Linked DNA regions of Homo sapiens. The protein of the gene in region 3 purifies or fractionates together with the protein of the main gene of each other region. This does not show direct contact. Each region holds a gene or a part of one and is shown on either strand. Other genes may lie near its edges. The genes, in order: PSMG2, PSMA6 and POMP.

Region 1 (6,310 bases), on a different chromosome or scaffold from region 3:
ATAACTGAGAGATTTGAAGATGCTAAGCTGCTGGCTTTGAAGATAGAAGGGCCCATGAGCCAAATAATATGGCAGCCTCTAGAAGCTGGAAACAGCAGAACACAAATTCTCCCTAAGGCCTTCCTCAGGAGCAGTGCCCTGCGATCACCCTGATTTTAGTCTCGTCAGACCCACTGTTGGATTTCTGACTCCTAGAACTCAGAAGTCAGAATTTAAAAGCAAATTTGTGGCTGGGCATAGTGGTGTAATGCCTGTAATCTCAGCACTTTGGGAGGACATGGCAGGAGGATTGCCTGAGCCCAGGAGTTTGAGACCAGCCTGGGCAACATGGCAAGACCTCGTCTCATTTTACTTAAAATACAGAATGAAAATTAATTAATTAGTTAATGAAAAAATTAAACTGGTGTGTTTTAAGTCACTAAGTTTGTGGTGATTTATTAGAGACAAACTAGGAAGCTAATAGAGAGTCTGAAATTAAAAAAAATACATTTAAGACAAAATTACTTAGGAAATAAAATTTTATTGTACAAAATTTACATTTGGTGCATATGATGAAAAGCATGGCAAAGAGACCCTTAATCTTTTTTCTTTGATATTTACTGTGAAAGTAATTTCCTAATACCAGATCATACAATTTTTTTGTATAGAATGTTTAACAGCTGTGTTGGTAGTAAGTGTTTTGGGTATAAGGTATAAAACAGAAATTAGATCAGAAAAGTGCAGGGGGAAGACCACTGCCAAAGAGTAATCTCCAAGAACTTGGTATTTTCCACCGTGAGGCAGATACTGTGGGGTCATCGCTCTGTAATTGAAGAACAAAATATTTTAATCTTTAAACTTTACCATCAAATCTCCTTTTAAAGTGAATTATAAAACTCTCCTTTTGTGTTCCTTTTGGTTGGCACTTTTATAGCCAGGTTTTATTGTTAAGGAAAAATAAAGTTTCTTTGTCTTCATGTCAACTGAAGATAAATTTCTTTAAGTTCCAAATTATAAAGATATGCCAGAAAGGCTGTAGATGAAGTTTATTAGGGAAAATCACATTCAAAAAGAATAGGGATTAAAAAAAAAATCAGCATTATGTGATTTGTATCAATTTGTTCTTGGCAAAAGCATGAATTAAAAAGCTAGTTACCCATCTTAGAAAGCAGCCTTATGCTCAGTGTTCTGTTATGCCTAAAGGCTAACTCACTTCCCTGGGTGTAATGCTCTCATTTCATAATAGAGAAAAATATCAACTGTAATACATATTCAATAGCTACAGTATTGCTCACATAGCAATACTTTTTACTTCCCTAAAAAAATTCCTGAATTCCACAGAAGGCTTGTTTATTATTGCAAGACTATGTCTGGCATAATTAATCTAACATGAATAGTAAGTACAATGAAGAACTAAGGATTTTCCTTTTTGGAAAGTCAGCTTTAATGAAAAAACTGTAAATAATAGGTTGGTTAACTGTCCTCTAATTTTCAAAAGTTCAGCTTAAACTAAATTTTATGTAAAGATATGTCTATATTTAATACAAACGTTCACTTACTTGGTCTACTTAGGTAGTATATAAAGTGCGAGTTAATGAATACAACCAGACAAAGAAGAGGCTTAAGCTATAATAGAACTTACAAGTGGTTTGAGTATCTGAAGCCACTCATTAAGATACTCAACAAGACCTAATGCATCTGGGATGTTGTCCCCTTCTGAAACAAATTTCAGCAGAACTGCCATTTGGATTTCTTTAGAACAGCTACAAGAAATAAAAATAAGAATCAGTATTCTTTCATAGGGTACAAGAGCTGACTCTAGTGTGTCTGTTTTTACAGCTACGATAACCTACCTGGTTTAGGAAAGGAAAAGACGCCACACCATAAGATCACTTATCATCTCCCTTCGCCCCACACAGAGTTTTCTACTTGTGAGAGCAGGCCCCTGTAACACCCACTGGGGAACACGCACAATCATGCCTCACCCCATGGCTGCATGAAAAACCAGCCTTTCTGTCCTTGGCTACAGCAGATAAGGTATGTTCTGACCTACTCCCCAAACCTACTTCAGAAGACAGTAATTTTCAGAAGCACCACAGCAGAGACTGAAAGAAAATAACACCTAGTTACTATCTAAAGCAGTGAGGGAAACTGTGGAAGAGAATGGAATCATTAAAGGAAATAAAAGTTCCTACTTCTTCCGAAAACGCTGAGTGGTTATTATGTGTTAAGCATTATCTGCAAATTTTATGACAATCCCTGTAATAATCCTGAAGAAGCTATAATTAGCTCCATTTTATAAGTGAATCAGTTTGGAATAACGGGAACAAAGACAGACACCAGGATTCAGATTCTAGCTCTTCAACTTACCAGATATGTTGGGCAAGTTACTTAACCAGGGGTGTTCCTCATCTATAAAAGGGGGATGATAATGGAACCTACTTCACAGGTTGTTGTGAGGCTGAAAGGAGGTAGTGGAGGCAAAATGCTTAAAACAGTGACCACACAGTAAATATGAAAGAAGTATTAGCTACTTTTATGAGGTAACAGGTTTAAAGAGATTGAATACAGGCTGGGCGCGCTGGCTCAAGCCTGTAATCCCAGCACTTTGGGAGGCCGAGGTGGGCAAATCATTTGAGGTCAGGAGTTCGAGACCAGCCTGGCCAACATGGTGAAACCCCGTCTCTACTAAAAATATAAAAATTAGCTGGGCATGGTGGCATGTGCCTGTAGGTACTCAGGAGGCTGAGGCAGGAGAACTGCGTGAGACAGAGCAAGACTCTGTCGCAAATGAAGAAAAAAAGATTTAATACATAGTTAACATGCCCAAAGTTCTATATCTAGTAAGGTCTCTATATCTAACTATATCTAGTTAGGTCTCTCTAACTCCAAAACATAGTCTCCTATCATACTATAAACGCCTCAAGCTAGTGATGAGATGGAGATACACCAAGGCAAAAAGTTTCCTGCTTGCCAATAAATGCAAAAATTACTCCTAACACCCTAAAACCAAGAACTATGAGAAAAATGCCATGCCAAAACTTGAAAGCACGAGACTGACAGAGAAGAGAGCTACAGAAATAAAAGTGAGCCGAGTTCTAAGGAAGGAAAGGCACCGAGGAGACTCTGATATATACATTCGGAAGTCTCAGATGATACCAGGCTAACTTTAGTTTCTGTCTCTAAAAACTACAAAGTAGAAACTGTTAGCCTCACTCACCCTAGCCCAGTACTTGGTTCTCAAACACCTTAGGGGCTCTCAATCTTTGTATGGAACCACTATGAGCTCTGATGGCTCAGAAAATTCCAGTTCCTAAATGCGTCTGCTGTGATGGCCTCAGGCAAGGCTCTCGCCTGGAGAAGGCTGGCTCCGAGGCTGTGCTTGCATTTTCAAGGCTCTAACTTGGAAAGCGCAGGGGTATGCTCTTCAGCTTATCGCGCCTCTTATTAGTTTGTCACACAGTGTGGGATAATCATTTCAATATTACCCTCTGGTCTTCTGCTAAAAAGAAAGGCAGAGGATGACTATTATTATTACTTTTTTATTTGGAACTATTTTATTCTGGTTGATACAACTGAGTATTTTAAATATTGTTTCTTCAGGGTAAAATCCGCATTTCCTGAATGTTTGATGCTGAGTAGGTCTAACTTTTATAATACTTTCTGTTTATCACCGCTAACTTTGTGGGCAAGCTTATAGCTAACCAGAAGCTGTTCTTTGCCTGTCCTCATAGTTTCACCCTATACCCAAGAAGACAGACCCAAGGAAACAGACCCCTGGACTCTGATGAGCAGCACCCCTGCCCTCGGATTCTCTGCCCTGTATTTCCAGTTGCCTCGGCCTCCCTGTAGTCTTAACTGATTTCCTCCACTCAGCTCTGCTTGGGTTCCGCTCCCTGTGCTGCAGTCCAGAAAGTATCTCAAGCAGAAAGCCAGGCAACTGTAGACTTAAAATTTGCCTTCTCTTAGGGATGACAGCTATGTGCTGCCTGTAGTCCAATGTCTGGAAAACAGTTGTTTCATAAATTGTCAGGTTCCAGTATTTTTATGGCAGGAGGGCAAGTCTGATATCAGTTACTCTGTCTTGGTCAGAAGCAAAAGTTTAGGAGGATTGATTGGTAAAGTAAGTGCAACAAAGTATAGAAGAGGTGGAGTGCAGTGGGAGTGCAGACGCAACTTCCTTGTCTAGAAGACAGGAAAAGGCAAGATTGCAGACAGGAGGTGAAGGGTAAGTTGACTCTTAGAAAGGAGGTAGGTGTTTGCAAGGGGGACAAGAGAGGAACACGGAACAAAAACACAAGGGAAATGAGAAAATACTGAGATGAGTGAAAATGAAAACACGACATGTCAAATCCCAGGGCATGCAGTGAAAACAGCACTAAGAGGAAAATTTACAGCTGTAAACACATTCAGTAAAAAAGAAAAAAACTTTTAAATTAATAACCTAAGTTTACACCTTGGAAAAGAGAAAAAAAAGCAAATCAAATCCAAAGCTAGCGGAAAAAAATAAAGATTAGGTAAGAGAGAAATAATAGAGAATAATAGAATAATAGAGAATAGAAAAACAATAATCAGCAAAATCAAAACTGGTTCTTCAAAGAAAAACAAAACTGACAAATCTTTAGCTAGCTTGACTAGGAAAAAAAAGAAAAGACTCAAATTATTAAAATAAGAAATGAAAATGGGAACATCAACACCAATTTTACAGAAATAAAGTTGGGAGTTATTATTTATGGGTACAGATTTTTTAATTTAGTATGACGACAAAGTTCTAGAAGTAGACAGTGCTGATGGATGCAGATGCTGTGAATTAATGGCACTTGATTGTACGCTTAAATATAGTTAAAATGTGTGATAAATGTAAATTTTGCACGATGTATATTTTACCACAATTAAAAAAAAGTGCGCGTGTAGAGGTTGCAAAGAATAAGTATTAGAATCCCTAAAAAGTCACACAAAATAAAAGCATTAAATATGGCTTTTGAGAAACCAGTTCTTCTATAACCAAGTTTAAATCTTTCCCCTAAATGCAAGAGCTCTACAATAGTACCAGTTTTGTAAATATATTTTCTTTTTTTCTTTTTGAGACGGAGTCTTGCTGTCTCCCAGGCTGGAGTGCAGTGGCGCGATCTCGGCTCACTGCAAACTCCGCCTCTCGGGTTCACACCATTCTCCTGCCTCGGCCTCCCGAGTAGCTGGGACTACAGGTGCCCACCATCACGCCCAGCTAATTTTTTGTATTTTTAGTAGATACAGGTTTTTACCATATTAGCCAGGATGGTCTCGATCTCCTGGTCTTGATTGATCTGACCTCGTGATCCGCCTGCCTCGGCCTTCCAAAGCGCTAGGATTACAAGTGTGAGCCACCGTGCCCGGCCTAGCAATATATTCTCAAAGTTTCAGTAAGTAATCCAATACATTCTCTGACTTAATTTTGTTTTTTTTGTTGTTGTTTTTTGTTTGAGACAGAGTCTTGCTCTGTCACCCAGGCTAGAGTGCAGTGGCACGATCTCAGCTCACTGCATTAATTTCATTTTTAAGTAAAGTGGGAAACAAATGAACAGGCAAACAAACTCACCTTTCATCATAGAGTGTTTTTGTGATACCTCCTCCCGGAATGCGGATACAAAACTCGGAATCATCTATTTCAGGAATGCACCGGCTTTTTTCCATTTCTTCCCAGTTAAGGCTCTTTATTTTATTTTGAACACTTTTTTGCATGGAAGGTGTAAGTAGGTACCGGAAGGGAGTACTAGAAATAATCATATAGTTAACTTTTTAAAAACTCTAAAGCAAACATCGGTTCTTTAGCTAAAATTCTCTTGGTCTCCATATATTCTGCTGCACAGGCAAAACACAAGTTTCAGCAGACTTAAGTAAAAAATATTGCTCTGATTTGCTACTTACTTACTTACTTAGGAGACAATATAAAAAGACAGAAACACTTAGGCAAGCCCATTGCAAAAATTTCCCACAGCTTTCCTCCCTTCTGCCATGAAGCCTGTAATGTCTTTTGTGAAAGTCCTGGAAATTAGCTCATTTTGAAAGGTAACTCTTGGCTTGTTGGTATTTTTTCATCCTGGTTTTATAGGTGTCTAAGTGATAAAAGTTATGATCTACATCATCTAAAACAGTTACAGTGAGCCAAGACTGTGCCACTGCACTCCAGCCTGGGTGACAGAGTGAGACTCCATCCCCAAAAGAATAAAAAATAAAAAATAAATGATCTAAATGCTACATCTTGGGGCCGGGCGTGGTGGCTCATGCCTGTAATCCCAGCACTTTGGGAGGCCCAGGCAGGCAAATCACCTGAGGTCAGGAGTTCGAGACC
Region 2 (7,111 bases), on a different chromosome or scaffold from region 3:
CGGTTAGAAGTGAGTGAGAATTATTATGAAAATTATTTTAGGTTGGGCACAGTGGCTCACAGTTGTAATCCCAGCACTTTGGGAGGCCAAGGTGAGAGGATTGTTTAAGACCAAGAGTTCAAAACCAGCCTGGGCAACATGGTGAGACTCCATCTCTATAACAAATTTAGAAATTAGCTAGGGGCTGGTCACGGTGGCTCACACCTGTAATCCCAGCACTTTGGGAGGCCGAGGCAGGCGGATCACTTGAGGTCAGGAATTCGAGATCAGCCTGGCCAGCGTGGTGAAACTCCATCTCTACCAAAAATACAAAAATTAGCTGGGCATGGTGGCGCACGCACACCTGTAATCCCAGCTATTCAGGAGGGTGAGGCAGGAGAATTGCTTGAACTCGGGAGGCAGAGGTTGCAGTGAGCTGAGATTGTACTACTGCACTCCAGCCTCGGCAACAGAGTGAGACTGTCTCAAAAAATAAAAACAAAAATACCAAAAAACTTAACCAGCTATGGTGGCAGGTGCCTGTAATCCCAACTACTCAGGAGGCTGAGGCAGGAGAATCGCTTGAACCCGGGAGGTAGAGGTTGCAGTGAGCCAAGATCATGAGACTGTACTGCAGCCTGGGCAACGGAGCAAGACTCCATTTGAAGAAGAAAAAAAAATTAGCTGGTATGGTGGCACATACCTGTAGTCCTAGCTACTCAGGAGGCTGAGGTAGGAGGATCACTTGAGCCAAGGAATTCAAGGCTGCAGTGAGCTATGATGGCTCACTGGGTGCCAGTCCAAGACCCCATCTCTAAAAAAAAAATGAAAAACTAATTTAAGCCTAAAAACAAAGATTAAGAAAGATTATTCTCTCTCAAGGCCTTTTTTTTTTTTTTTGGAGACAGAGTCTCACTTTGTCGCCCAGGCTGCTCCGCCTCCTGGGTTCAAGCAATTCTCGTGCCTCAACCTCCCAGGTAGCTGGGACTACAGGCATGCACCACCACGTGCAGCTAATTTTATGTTTTTAGTAGAGACAGGATTTAGCCATGTTGGCCAGGCTGGTCTCAAACTCCTGGCCTCAAGTGATCCGCCTCTCTTGGCCTCCCAAAGTGTTGAGCCACCATGCCCTGCCTCCTTAATGCTTTTTCTTTTGGGAGTTACTGGATACTTGCAGAAACTATTTTGACTGCTGATGAAAGGCTCAGTATAAAAGGGGAGTACTGTGTAGAGAGCTTCATGTTTTTAAATTTTTTTCATATACTTGTTGATGAGTTATTTAGTATTCATTGGGGGAGAAAAAGCCGTAGCGGACCCTTTCTCTTTAACTCATGTATGTCTATATGGTGGGAAAATTGCCTGGCTAAATTGCCTGGCTTTCAGGTTTGTTCTTTCCTTCTAACCAGGTAAATCTTTGTTTTTTATGCTATAAGCTGACAGCAGATCCCAGGTACAGAGGGCACGCTATGAGGCAGCTAACTGGAAATACAAGTATGGCTATGAGATTCCTGTGGACATGCTGTGTAAAAGAATTGCCGATATTTCTCAGGTCTACACACAGAATGCTGAAATGAGGCCTCTTGGTTGTTGTAAGTATGCTAAGAGGTCTCCCAAATAATTGATGAATTGAAACTTTTTACAGAACATGTATACAGAATTATTTAAATAACACTTGAGTTCTGAACATGTGGTTTGGAAAATACATAGAGTGGGAAAATCTTTATAATAAATCAGAACTAAAGGATAGGTTTCACAACAGTATGTCGGGCATTATCTTTAAGCTTTAGATGCTGTTAGACTTTTTATCAAAGTATTTCCATTTGGTGTATGTGATTTGAAAGATGCAAGTCCTCATTATTAGGATGTTGTAATGAGGTTCTACTGCAATTCGAGATTACTAATTCCATAGAAATACCTGCATCAGGCATCTTAATAATGTAGCTGTTTGTTTTGACCACCCTAAAGAATTAGGGTCACACACAGGTGTGTAATTCACATTTTTAGAATAAATTTCTATTTTTGAAAACAAGTAAAATTGTATTGGGAGAGGGATGAGATTTACTGATTTTTAGATGTGATGTAATAAATTAGCCTGAAAAATTCAGTGCATGTTTGTTTCTGACATTGTGTCATTCATTTATGAGCATTAAAGCAGTCAGTGTAATGATTTCTGTTTAGCATCTGACCCTCTTGACTTCTCACTTAAAAATTACTTAAATCATATTCATCTTGCAAGACCTTGAAGGAAAGAAGTATTTGTTGTTTCCCCAAGCAGTAAGTGGGTACTTTTTTGTGTTGCCCTTATATTTTGTATATATCAAATATAAGAAAGCAGTCAAACCATTAAGTACTTTGTTACCTGTTCTACTGAGTAGAAAGAAATTTAATGATGGTGTTTATTTTAATTGTATTCCTATAATATGGTAACATTAGAATTGTAGTAACAAAGTTACATGTATAGAATTTAGAGCTTGGTTTGTGTGACTTACTAGAGGAGTATATACCAACAGTAATGAAGATGGGCAGTGTAAAGGTGAGCAGGTAGCCTGTAAGTGTATTTCAGTTTGTGCCAGCATTCCCAAAGTGTGTCCCATACACTGTTCCCTGGAACCTTAATAGGTATTTCTATTTTAAAAAAAAAGTATTTCTTGGTCAAACAAACAGAAGAACTACTGAGTTAAAGTTAAATAGGTCAATCTACAACAGAATATTTCACAGCATTTAATATGCTATTATTTATTATCTGTTTCCAGAAAAGGTATATGAAAGTGTTTTTGGGCCAGGCACAGTGGTGCACACTTATAATCCCAGCACTTTGGGAGGCCGAGGCAGGAGGATCACTTGAACCCAGGAGTTCAAGACCACCCTGGGCAACAGCGAGTCCTCGTCTCCTAAAAAAAAAAAAAAAAAAAAAGGTTGGCCAGATGCAGTGGCTCACGCCTGTAATCCCAGCACTTTGGGAGGACGAGGCAGGTGGATCACAAGGTCAGGAGATCAAGACCAGTCCTGGCTAACACGGCGAAACCCGGTCTCTACTAAAAACACAAAAAATTAGCTGGGCGTGGTGGTGGGCACCTGTAGTCCCAGCTACTCGGGAGGCTGAGGCAGGAGAATGGCGTGAACCCGGGAGGAGGAGCTTGCAGTGAGCCGAGATCGTGCCACTGCACTCCAGCCTGGGAGACAGAGCGAGAGTCTGTCTCAAAAAAAAAAAAAAAAAAAAAAAAAAGTGTTTTTGAAGTTTATTTGACCAGGCAACATCTTGAAGGATTAGGGTTCAAATAAACATGCTTGGATAACAGCAAGGATTGGAAACACTATTTTTAAATTGTATTTGTAATTATTCAAACTATTTTTTTTAATCTGTGATAAATCCTTTTGTGAAATGGGAATTTACCTGTTACCTAATTTACCTGTGGTGATAACCTGTATTTTATCAGTTTTCTTAAAGGAAAATACATATCCTAAAATTGATGGCCAAAGTCATGATTAGCAGCAGCTATGTGACACCACCAAGAAAGAGGAGATGTCATTGTATAAAGCTAAAACATTTAATTAGGGTCTTTTCTCTTTTTAGGTATGATTTTAATTGGTATAGATGAAGAGCAAGGCCCTCAGGTATATAAGTGTGATCCTGCAGGTTACTACTGTGGGTTTAAAGCCACTGCAGCGGGAGTTAAACAAACTGAGTCAACCAGCTTCCTTGAAAAAAAAGTGAAGAAGAAATTTGATTGGACATTTGAACAGACAGTGGAAGTAAGTCAACCAAAAGGAGCTGACTTTTTTTATGCTATATAGAACAGTGAGGATCTTTGTATAATTTCTATACAAAGCTATTCCTGAATTACATCCCAGGATTCAAGTTGTCAACTTAATAATGAAATTGATATCATACAGCTGACATAGGAAAATTTGAGTTGCTTTTATTCACTTAATTCCTTATTTCGTAATGTATTTGAGGTGGCTTTCAACAAAACGCATATAATAGGAAAATATAAATAAAAATAGGAACCAGCTGGGCATGGTGGCACACACCTGTAGTCCCAGCTACTTGAGAGGCTGAAGCTGGAGGACTGCTTGAGTCTAGGTGTTCGAGGCCAGTCCTATTTACTGCCAAGAAATTAAAAACAAAAATTTTAGTAGATTTTGGGTGTAAGTCTGGAATTAAAGCCATTCTGAAGATGCTAACAACATGCTTCTGATAAGTGACCAAAAAAAAATTACCATCTAATGCTTTTACGTTTGGTTTGGAAGTATGCTTAAAGGAGATAAAAAGCTAGTTCATGTTCAGGAAGTACTGGGCCCTGTCTAAATATTTCTTAAAGGTTTCTTTTATTGCAATTCATAATTAATTACATAAATAACCACATCCGGTAAAAAAACACTTAAGGTGGCTCACACCTGTAATCCCAGCACTTTGGGAGGCAGACAGATCACCTGAGGTCAGGAGTTTGAGACCATCCTGGCCAACATGGCGAAACCCTGTCTCTATGAAAAATACAAAAATTAGCCGGGCATGGTGGCAGGCGCCTGTAATTCCAGCTACTCAGGAGACTGAGTCAGGAGACTCGCTTGAATCCACGAGCCTGAGGTTGCAGTGAGCCAGGCTGGCGCCACTGCACTCCAGACTGAGCGACAGAGTGAGACTCTGCCTCAAAAAACAGAAACAAAACAAACAAACAACACTTAAAACATTCTTAAATCGTTTTTACTGTAAATTCCTTGAAGATGCAGAGAGTATCATTCATCTTTATCCTTTTCCCATTTCACCCCAAGTGCTAAGTGAAGTGTAGTGCCTGGGTCATGAAGCCAATAAACCTTTTTGTATAAATCATCCTATTTTAATTAATGGACCCCTTTATTATTTGACTTGGTAGAAAAAAATTTCTCATCATTGGGAGGCAATACATTAGAGTTAAGCAGTCTGTTAGTAACATTGAACTACCTCATTGAAACATGGAGCTCCTGATTGACTCATGATTTGAATAAGCTAGGAATGAGAAAACCTTGGAATCTCTAAAAAATACTATATTTTAACATTAAATACTTTTTTTCAGACTGCAATTACATGCCTGTCTACTGTTCTATCAATTGATTTCAAACCTTCAGAAATAGAAGTTGGAGTAGTGACAGTTGAAAATCCTAAATTCAGGTGAGTGATATTGTGGGCCACATGCAGACTAGAAAGGTGGAGGCGTGTGAGTCCATGTGTCCTATAACTTGTGGGGGAAATCTTTTTTCTTTAACTGTCATTATAGTTTTTGTTTGTGTGTTTGTTTTTTTCCCCAGCACCTGAGATCTGTTTTTAAAACTTTGGACTCTATTTAAGAGTCAGATATGAAAGCTTTTCTCCTTATTTCAGAGTGATTTTATATCTAACACCAGAGATGACATAAAGTTACCTTCCTTATGTAAGGAAAAAAATTAGCATAAGTGTTTTCTTTTTTTTAGTTTAAGGCCAATACAAATTCAATTCCCAAAGTAGTAGTTTGCAAGTTTTTCAGATAGAACTTTGGTTATTTAGTGGTTATTTAAGTAGAACTTTGAGGAGCAATATGAGTTACTGATATATGTCAGACCCTTATCTAGAGATCTTTGGAAAGCCCAAATTTTGAATACAGCTAATTGACTTGCAGTTGCTGGATGTGTGTGTGTGTGTGTGTGTGTGTGTGTGTGTGTGTTCTTACTCACTAAGTGACTAACTCCCACACATCAGCCTTATAGCTTCCATGATTCAAATCCATACTGAGTGCTTCGTATAATCAGCTCATTTAATCCTCCCAGCAGCCCTGTGAGGCAGTTGATATACCATGGACCAGGATGCTCTTATCTTTAATGAAAATACTGCAGTTAAATCGACAGATACAAGGAACTACTGGGAGGCATTTTAACTATTATGTGTATCTATTCTTAGATCACAACCATAAAGACACATGGTCTTGGTTGTGGTGTGGGGTACGGGAGTGGTAAACTAAGCTTAACTAGACCTTGAAGAGGTTTTTCGTTTGTTCTTTTTTTTCCTAATTTGTTCTTTTGGTTGCCCACAGATAAGTCATATAAACATGACAGATTCAGAAAAATTCATAGGACTTTAAAAAAAAAAAAACAGCTGGGTGCTGTGGCATGCATCTGTAGTCTCAGCTCCTCAGGAGGCTGAGGCAAGAGGATGGCTTGAGCCTTGGAGTTGAAAGCTGTAGTGCGCAATGATAGTGCCTGTGAATAGCCACTGCACTCTAGCCTGGGTAACATAGTGAGACCTCATCTGTTAAAAAAACAACCGACAACACCAAAAGCGAATCTATCCTAGCTTTTCTTCCCGTAGGAAGAAGTCTTGTAACTTGGGTTGGGGTAGGGGTGAGGGGTGGGGGCAGGGATCAAGTTGCTTTTGAAAAAGGTGCCTTTTTTTTTTTTAAGTAAAAATTTCAGCAAGAATAATCTTAAAATCTCTCTAAGGAACCTACAATTAGTTCTTGTTTTCTTTTCTGTTTGGAGACCTTCCTGCCACCTTTAAAATTGTATTTGTTATTTTTTAAATTGGTAAGGAATCAAAAATCTTGTCTTCAAAAAACTTTGTATCATTTATAAATTCTGTGATAGTAAATATATGTAAATAATTACAGTACATAGCATAAGCATCAACAACTATTTAAACTGCTTGATATTGCCTTCAGTTGCACTAAAAAATGTCCTTTTGACAAATTTCACTTTTTAGAAGTCTAGTAGTAATAGGTCACATTAACAAGGTTGCCAAACAATTGCTTCCTTTCGAGGCAAACATCATTTAGAAAATACATGTTCAGGGCCACACATGGTGGCTCACACCTGTAATCCCAGCACTTTGGGAGGCCAAAGTGGACAGATCACTTGAGGTCAGGAGTTTGAGACCAGCCTGGCCAACATGGTGAAACCCCATCTCTACTAAAAATACAAAAATTAGCCAGATGTGGTGGTGGACGCCTGTAATCCCAGCTGCTTGGGAGGCTGAGGCAGGAGAATTGCTTGAGCCTGGGAGGCGGAGGTTGCAGTGAGCCAAGATTGTGCCACTGCACTCCAGCCTGGGCGACAGGGTCAGACTCCATCTCAAAAAAAAAAAAAAAAAAGAGAAAGGAAATATATGTTCAACATGGAGCACTCT
Region 3 (7,905 bases):
TGGGAAGGATTCCTGAGGTGATCTCTGAATGCTGTCAGTTTGAAAGGCATTCCAGGAAAAAATAACATGAATAAAGGCAAGAAAATATAAATGAACAAGCTTCAGGTAGTTTGAGATAACTGGCTAAATATGTTTCCAGTGAGGCAGAAGTAAAGGCTGATGAAATACAAAAGTGAAACATCTTATGTGCAAAGAAATATGGGTTTTATTCCAAAACTGAAAGCCTCTGAAAGGTTATGGCATGATTGAATTTGTTTCCCCTGGAAAAACCACTCCCTTAGGTTAGAGTGTATAACACAGAATAAAAAAGTTGAAGACAGCATCCTCGGGAATACTATTCCCTGAGGACAAGGAAAAACAACACAGAAATGGGATTAACAGACAGGATGGATAAAGAAAAGTAGAGAAGCTGGGAAAAAAAGGGAATTTCAGAAAGTGTTTGGTTTCTATATGAAGATAGCGCTACCTATAAAAACTATGTGTATCTAATCAGGATAGTATAAAACAAAGTAAAAAAGACAGTGCATTTGGTATTGGTGTATGATTACCCTACGCTACTGTGAAATGCGCAATCACCAGATACTTATTAGCCATCTACTATGTGTCAGGTACTCTGCTAGATACTGAAGCTACATGTCTACCTCCCGGGGCTTCAGCTTATGAAAATATATTAAACAAGCAAAGAAAACATGGTGTTACAACAGGCAAAGCATGAGATGCTAACTTTATTTATTTACTTTTTGAGATAGGGTCTTGCTCTGTCATCCAGGCTGGAATGCAGTCGAGCAATCACGGCTAACTGCAGCCTAGACTTCCCAGGTTCAAGCGATCCTCCTGCCTCAGCCTCTCAAGTAGCTGGGACTACAGGCGTGCAACATCACGCCTGGCTAATTTTTTTATTTTTTGTGGAGATAAGGTCTCAACTATGATGGCCAGGCTAGTCTCAAACTCCTGTGCTCAAGCCATCTTCCTGCCTCAGCACCCCCCAAAGTGCTGGAATTACAGGTGTCAGCCAGCATGCACGGCCCAAGACGCTAACTTTAAATCACTTGTTGCTCAAGTCCAATATCCCTGTGATTCTGCAGAAAAATGTAAAACAGCTACAGGTAGTTTTAGTATCAAATTTTATATTATTCTAGAAGAAAATATTCTGAGAAGTCAGCTTTTTAACTGATTTCTTAATTCGTTTGTATATTTGATTTAGTCAGGTATTTTATCCTTTGCAGGGTTTCTTCACTATACCACTCCAGCCCAGCCTATCACACATGGATAACTTCAACAGCATTCTACTGGGTCTTGCTGCCTTTAGACTCACCCATTTTCCAGTTCTGTATATCAAGGTTTTCCTCAAGCATGAAACCTCCTCCAACAAAACTGCTATAAAATCTTTGTTGGTTCATCGATGTCTGAAGCACAAAGTTCAGACTCCTTAGCCTGGACCTAAAGAACCTGCATAATAGGTTCCAACTCCCCTACATACAAGAAGTCATGGTGGACGAGGAAAAGAATCTGGACTCTAGTGTGGACTGTCACTAACCTACTTTGTGACTGCCAGCAAAGCACCAACCTCTCTGGCCTTGTTTACTCATCTGCACCAAGGAGCTGAACTCCTACCAGGACTACAAATGCTCCTTGACTTATGATGGGGTTACTTCCTAATAAATCCATCTTAAATTGAAAATGTCAAAAGTCAAAAACACATTTAACACACCTAACCTACTAAACATCAGGCCTTAGCCTAGCCTACCTTAAATGTGCTCAGAACACTTACACTAGCCTACAGTCGGCCAAAATCATCTAATACAAAGCCTACTTTATTAAAAAGTACTGGGTATCTCATGTAATTTATTGAATACTGTACTGAAAGTGAAAAACAGAATGGCTGTATTGGTACTCAAATATGGCCTCTACTGACTGTGTATGGATTTCACACCATCATAAAGTCAGAAGATTGTTGAACCACCAGAAGTTGGGGACCTTCAGCAGAGATGTGTGATTGTTGCTTTCCAAATGTATCTTCTATTACTTCCCTATATGAACATTCTCCTCCTTCTGGACTGCTTTATTGTAAAGTAACAAGGTTTCAACGCACAAAGAAAAGGTGAATTCTGACTTCTGGATTCTGTTATTGTCATTTTTCCCAATTTCCTTCTGTAAAATATCAAGATTAGTACTTGCTGTTTCTAATAAAGGAAGGAGCCGAGAAAGGCAAATCTACGAAAACCTAACTACTAGTTACATTTGAGAGTGCCTAAAAAACTTTTTAGATAACGATTAGCAGTATTTACCAATAGAAACTTTCTAGATTTGGATGGATGGCCTACCAGCAGTACCGATATCAGAGTCTGTGGCAATGGTGACTCAGTGTTCTTCTCAAATACCACAACTTCTAAGTTAAAAAGAAAGAGAAAGTGGTGGGGAGGAGAAGGAGGGAGGAGATATACTAACAATACTGGCAAACAGGGAATAGCAACTGTCTGATTTTTTCCCCTCTAACATCTAGCACACTACAAGCTCTCAAAAAAGTTTGTAGAGCAAAGCTGCGTTACACAAATGCGACCTATAGTTGTGGGCTGTTTACTAGGCAGTTACAAGGGCGGGGGCTGGGGGAGATGAGGAGTCTGAGAGCTCTGGGCTCCCAGAGGTTACCCGTCAAGGAAAGGGTCGCCAGCGCCACCCCACAGAACGTTGCACTTTCACGGCTGCCTTTTCCACTTCTGCGCCAAGTAAGGGGAGGAGGTCTGGGCCTGCTGGGGTCTAAGGGATGGAAGGGCGCAAACCGAGCTAAGAGGAGCAGGATGAAGCCGAAGCACTGCTAGTGGGACTAGTGCCGGGCCCCGGCGACAGTCACGACCCACCCAAACCCCGTGACTCGACAGATTATGGCGCCTGAGGCCGGCCTCAGCCCCACGCTGCCGCCGCCGCCGCCACCGGGGACGGGTTGGGAGGCGACTGCCTGTTTCTGCCGAGCCACGGTCCCGAGCCCGCGTGGAACTCCAGCCGCCCGGGTACCCACTCACCATCTTCCGCAGCTCTGCGAACAGCCTCTCTGCCCCGTTACCGTCAGTCGACCCCGCCGCTCACTTCCGTTTCCGAGGGCTGGCCCCCACATCCGCCGGAAGTGCGTCCGTCCTGGCGAGGAAGGAAGGAGGGCGCGGGACGCCGGAGGGAGCTGCGCGGGGCCGAGGCTCCCACGCTTGCAATCCCAAGGGACCCAGGGCCAAGGGCGCAGTAAGGGTGTGGGCTGGGAGGAGGGAGGGGTCGGGACGAGACGTGCCTGAGGGGAGGGAAGACACGGACTCCGGTTTATTAATAAACATCTACGGTTTGTACGGCATTTTAAGATGTGCAGTGTGCTTTTGTAGGTACATCGCCTTATTTAACACAAAACCTCTCTGAGGTAGCTATTACATTTCACAGAAGGGTAAACGAGGCGTAGGTGGTTTGAGTGATTTGCTTGAGATCGTTCGGCTAATAAAGCAAAATTGGGACACAAGGCTTTTGTCATTTTTAAAAAACATAATATTGAAGGCCTGGTATGTTCCGAACCCTGTGCTGAGGCTAGGAATACAAAAAAGGACCAGGCCGGTGTGGCCTCTGGGCTAGAGGAGCAGGGGTACTCCGGAGGCTAGAGGGGAGAGAGGGGACGATAGTGACTACAAATTAAGTAAATGTGATCATGACCGACATATGTTGGGCCCTTTGAATTGCGTTATCAACACAGTTCTAAGTGCTTACATCCTTTATCTCTTTTAATCTTTTCAATAACCTTACAAGTACAATTTACAGGTGAAGAAACCGAGACATGAAGGGCTTAAATAAATATGCCTAAGGACATATTTATGAGTCTAGAATCCATGCTCATTACACTATTCTGTATTGTTCAAATATAATGTAATAAAACGGCCTTATAGTCTGCTGCCACAGGATGGAGACATCTTAGGGAATCTTTGGACTGACAGCTAAAAGATAAGAGCGAACTAGTTTGGGGTAGTAGGATATTTAAAACAACATTACGTGCAGATCTGCTTGTGCAAAAACGGAACTGGAAAGAAGGCCTAAGTCTGGCTAAAGTTCAGAAAGTAAAGTGGAGAGTACTGTGAGATGAGGTTGTAAGTAGATGGAGGCAAGTGGTTTTTGTTGTTGTTTTTGTTTGTTTGTTCTAAATAATGATAGGGTTTAGCTATGTTGCCCAGGTCTGCGTTGAACTCCTGGGCTCAAGCGATTCTCCTGCTGCAGCCGGCTGAGTAATGGGAACTACAGGCGTGCATCATGGGACCTAGCTACAGGTTTTTTATGCAGCCTTTGTAGGCAAGATTAAGGATGAGGCTTTGTCTTTAAAAAGCCATCGAAGGATTTGAGAGAGGAAAATGATAAGGCCATATATGTTATGTATATCCACTGCCATGGTCATACAACTTTGAAGTTCCAGATGTTATGTGTTCTGCCATGCTGTCCTTTAGGTGTCTTCTGGTCCTTCACAATAGCCATGTTTAATCCTGAGATTTGAGTTGGAGTGTTTCGTTTGCATCTTTTTTTCTTTCCGTCAATTCCACCTGAGAAATTGTAAAACTGCGAATCTTTTCTTAAAAATCATTTTAACATTTGCTGATTGCTCACAGTTCAATGAATATGTATTGAACATTTGCTTGGTACTAGATTCTGGAGCTATAAAGAAGAAAAGAGCAATTCCCTGTACCTGAGATGCTTATATATTTTCCTGGGGAAATAGACATGCAAACAGATATTTAAAATGCAGCATGGGCTGGGTGCAGTGGCTCACACCTGTAATCCTAGCACTTTGGGAGCTGGAAGCAGGCAGATCACTTGAGGTCAGTAGTTCGACACCAGCCTGGCCAACATGGCAAAAGCCCATCTCTACTAAAGATACAAAAAAAAAAATTAGCCAGACATCATGGTGCATGCTTGTAGTCCCAGCTATTCAGGAGACTGAGGCACGAGAGTCGCTTGAACCTGAGAGGTAGAGGTTGCAGTGAGCAGAGATCACGCCACTGCACTCCAGCCTAGGTGACACAGCAAGACTCCATCTCAAATAATAATAATAAAATAATAAAATGCAGTGTGATAAATGCTTGATAGAGAAAGGGGCTAAACCAGAAAGTTGTTGGGAGCAGGAGAAAACAGCATTCACGGAAGAGGAACATGTAAAGGCAAGAGATCTGTGAAAAGTCGTGTTGTTATCTGAGTAATGGAAAACATTTCCCTGTGGCTGGAGCTCTGGGTGAGCAGGTGAAGCAAAATGAGATGAGGTTGGAGGGACAGGTTGGGGCCAAAACGAAGGGCCTTCTATGGTATGCTGAGGTTTAGGGCTTTTTCTTATAGACAACAGGAGATAATGGAGGTCTTTTCACAAACATTTGGCATTAAAAAAAAAAAATTCTGGTGGCAGCATGAAGGACAGACTAAGATTGGGAGAAAGTAGGAACCAGGATACCATTTAAGCCACTAATGGTACGCTAAGGTAGTGTCACATACTGGAAAGGCTTTGAAAGGAAGGAAAAAGTAGGAGTGAACCTAAGAAATACCAGAATTCAAAAGACAGCCAGAAGAAGGGGAGCCTGCTTTAAAGGCTATGCCATCTTCGAATCAAAAGGGCAAGGAAGTATTGAGAGGTTAGAAAGTAGTTCAAAAGTAGCTAAAAAGGGATCATAAAGCCCTGAAAATAGGCTTTTGGTGACCAGTGTGAAGAGTTGTTTTAGTGGCTCAGCAAGGAGAAAATTCCCTTTATTTTGAGTCTTACACTCAAGTTTATGTCCTATTTTAAATGGTTTGTTACAGTATTAACTAATACGGGGTACTTTTGAGTATGCTAAATAAGAAGTAAATTAGATTTGATGCTGGAATGATTTAATTATGTTTACTTAAGCTTTATGTTAAATAGCTTAGAGGATAGAACATTAGTAATGATAGCTAACATTTGTTACATGTCAGGCCAGGGTTTAGTTTTTTGCATATATTGTTTCAATTAATCCTGTGAGGTAGATACTATCATTATGCACATTTCACAGAAAATGCTGAGGCATTGTATGAGAACAAGCACCCTATTTTGTTTTACTTTTTGTAGTCGTCTTTGACTTTACTCTTAAGTCAGTCTGGTGACATAGCTAGGTAAACTGAGGACAAATTCAGCTTCATTCACATCTGGCAAGAACCCTCCTCCCTCCTCCTAGCTCTTTCCCCATTTGTTACCTCATCTGTCTCCTGTTTGGGTACTATTCTTGTACTTCATCTTGTCAGCTGAATTTGGGTCTTCTGACCTAAATTTTAGTGCTCCCTAACGATCTAAAATTACACTTAACTTTGCTCTTTTCTGTTATTTGCCTAAGCTTGGCCCTGGGCACCCAAACCCTATTACCCAGCCTGCTTGGTTAGCCCCCTCTTAAAAGCTGCTTTGTCTCCACAGCACAGTGCCTTGCATACTTTAGGCAGGTACTCAGCAGGATTTTGAAATCTAGTATGTAGTGAGTGTCTCTTTAGAACTTAAGAAGCTGGAAGAGGCATAGAGAAGAGAGGTCTGAAAATGTCTCAGAGCTAAGGAAGATACGATGTTGAGATAAGGGAATGACCAGTGATGTCAGATAATGATTATGGGAAGATCGATGGGGTTTGGCAAATGGGATGTCATTTGCATAATCTTCTGGTGAGCAGTTTAACTATAAACCAGATTGTTAGGAATGAAGAATTTATAAGAAGAAAATGGAGGCAGCCAAATTTTATAGATCATTCTTTTCAGAAAGTTGTCCATTTCAAAAAATAGAATCAGGATTTTGGTTTGAATGAAAGTTGGGTTTTGTTTTTGTTTCATGTGCATGATTGGACAGACCAAAGTTTGTTAGGCAGATGTTAGAAAGAGTTGGTGAAGGGGCAAGAGTGAAGACAGCAGGGAAGAGAAGCAGCAAGAAGGAATGATTGAGATAATGATCTCTCAGATGCCCAGAACAGTTGTGAGAGGGAATCAAGGACAAAGATGCAGCTGTTAGAAAAAGGAGGCAGGCCCAGGCGCAGAGACTCACTCCTGTAATCCTAGCACTTTGGGAGGCTGAGGCAGGTGGATCACCTGAGGTCAGGAGTTCAAGACCAGCCTGGCCAACATGGTGAAACCCTGTGTCTACTAAAAATATAAAATTAGCTGGGCATGGTGGTGCACGCCTGTAATCCCAGCTACTCGGGAGGCTGAGGCAGGAGAATCACTTGAACCCAGGAGGTGGAGGTTGCAGTGAGCCGAGATGGTGCCACTGCACTCCAGCCTGGGCGACAGAGCGAGACCCTGTCTCAAAAAAAAAAAAAAAAAAAAAAAAAATTATGCTTCCCTACAAGGCTAGGGGTGGAGGAGTAGTTCATATAAGGGTAGTGGTATTATACAAATCTTAAACAATAAGAAAATTACTAGGTTTTCGAGGGCCTGAAAAGAATCTATAAGTTATAAAAAATATATCCAGATCTTCTTTAAATGATTTAAATTCTTACAGTGTTGGGAAGGGTTCAATATGCATAATTTAGGATAAGTCATATTTACAAATCTTCTCTGCAAGCCCCTTCCTATGTGTTAAGAGATGGAGAAATATCAAGTTCATTTGACCCTTTAACCCTAAGAGATGAGTGTTTCATATTTTGAAATATTTTACTAGCTATAATTTCAGATGCAGCTGCTTTTAAAAGAGTGTCTGCTGATTATGAAAAGCTGGGTTTTGAGAATAAGTACTAGAGTAGACTATTTGGAATCCAGGAGTTTTATTTTACTACTTTACATCTGCATTGCATCAGACATGGCGCAAGTTAGCATTCCATTTTTCATGCTTTTGTAGCCCTATTTTAGGTCTGTCTGTGCTCAGAATTGGTTTATATTTTCACCATAATCTATTCATTTGCCTGCACAGCATACAG

Evidence for each region.
Region 1: the proteins of POMP (region 3) and PSMG2 purify together in Homo sapiens (co-immunoprecipitation; 8 studies listed by BioGRID and IntAct, with this or other methods). This does not show direct contact.
Region 2: the proteins of POMP (region 3) and PSMA6 purify together in Homo sapiens (affinity purification with western blotting; 4 studies listed by BioGRID and IntAct, with this or other methods). This does not show direct contact.

The regions. Positions count from the first base shown.
Region 1 is NC_000018.10:12,719,931-12,726,240, reverse strand, and holds the end of PSMG2 (proteasome assembly chaperone 2), read right to left. Parts: intron 5,732-6,310; coding exon 5,558-5,731; intron 1,743-5,557; coding exon 1,622-1,742; intron 803-1,621; coding exon 710-802; 3' UTR 501-709; downstream 1-500. UniProt on the Homo sapiens protein: Chaperone protein which promotes assembly of the 20S proteasome as part of a heterodimer with PSMG1.
Region 2 is NC_000014.9:35,309,328-35,316,438, forward strand, and holds part of PSMA6 (proteasome subunit alpha type-6), read left to right. Parts: intron 1-1,412; coding exon 1,413-1,568; intron 1,569-3,553; coding exon 3,554-3,732; intron 3,733-5,033; coding exon 5,034-5,128; intron 5,129-7,111. UniProt on the Homo sapiens protein: Component of the 20S core proteasome complex involved in the proteolytic degradation of most intracellular proteins. This complex plays numerous essential roles within the cell by associating with different regulatory particles.
Region 3 is NC_000013.11:28,654,303-28,662,207, reverse strand, and holds the start of POMP (proteasome maturation protein), read right to left. Parts: upstream 3,079-7,905; 5' UTR 3,024-3,078; coding exon 3,021-3,023; intron 1-3,020. UniProt on the Homo sapiens protein: Molecular chaperone essential for the assembly of standard proteasomes and immunoproteasomes. Degraded after completion of proteasome maturation. Mediates the association of 20S preproteasome with the endoplasmic reticulum.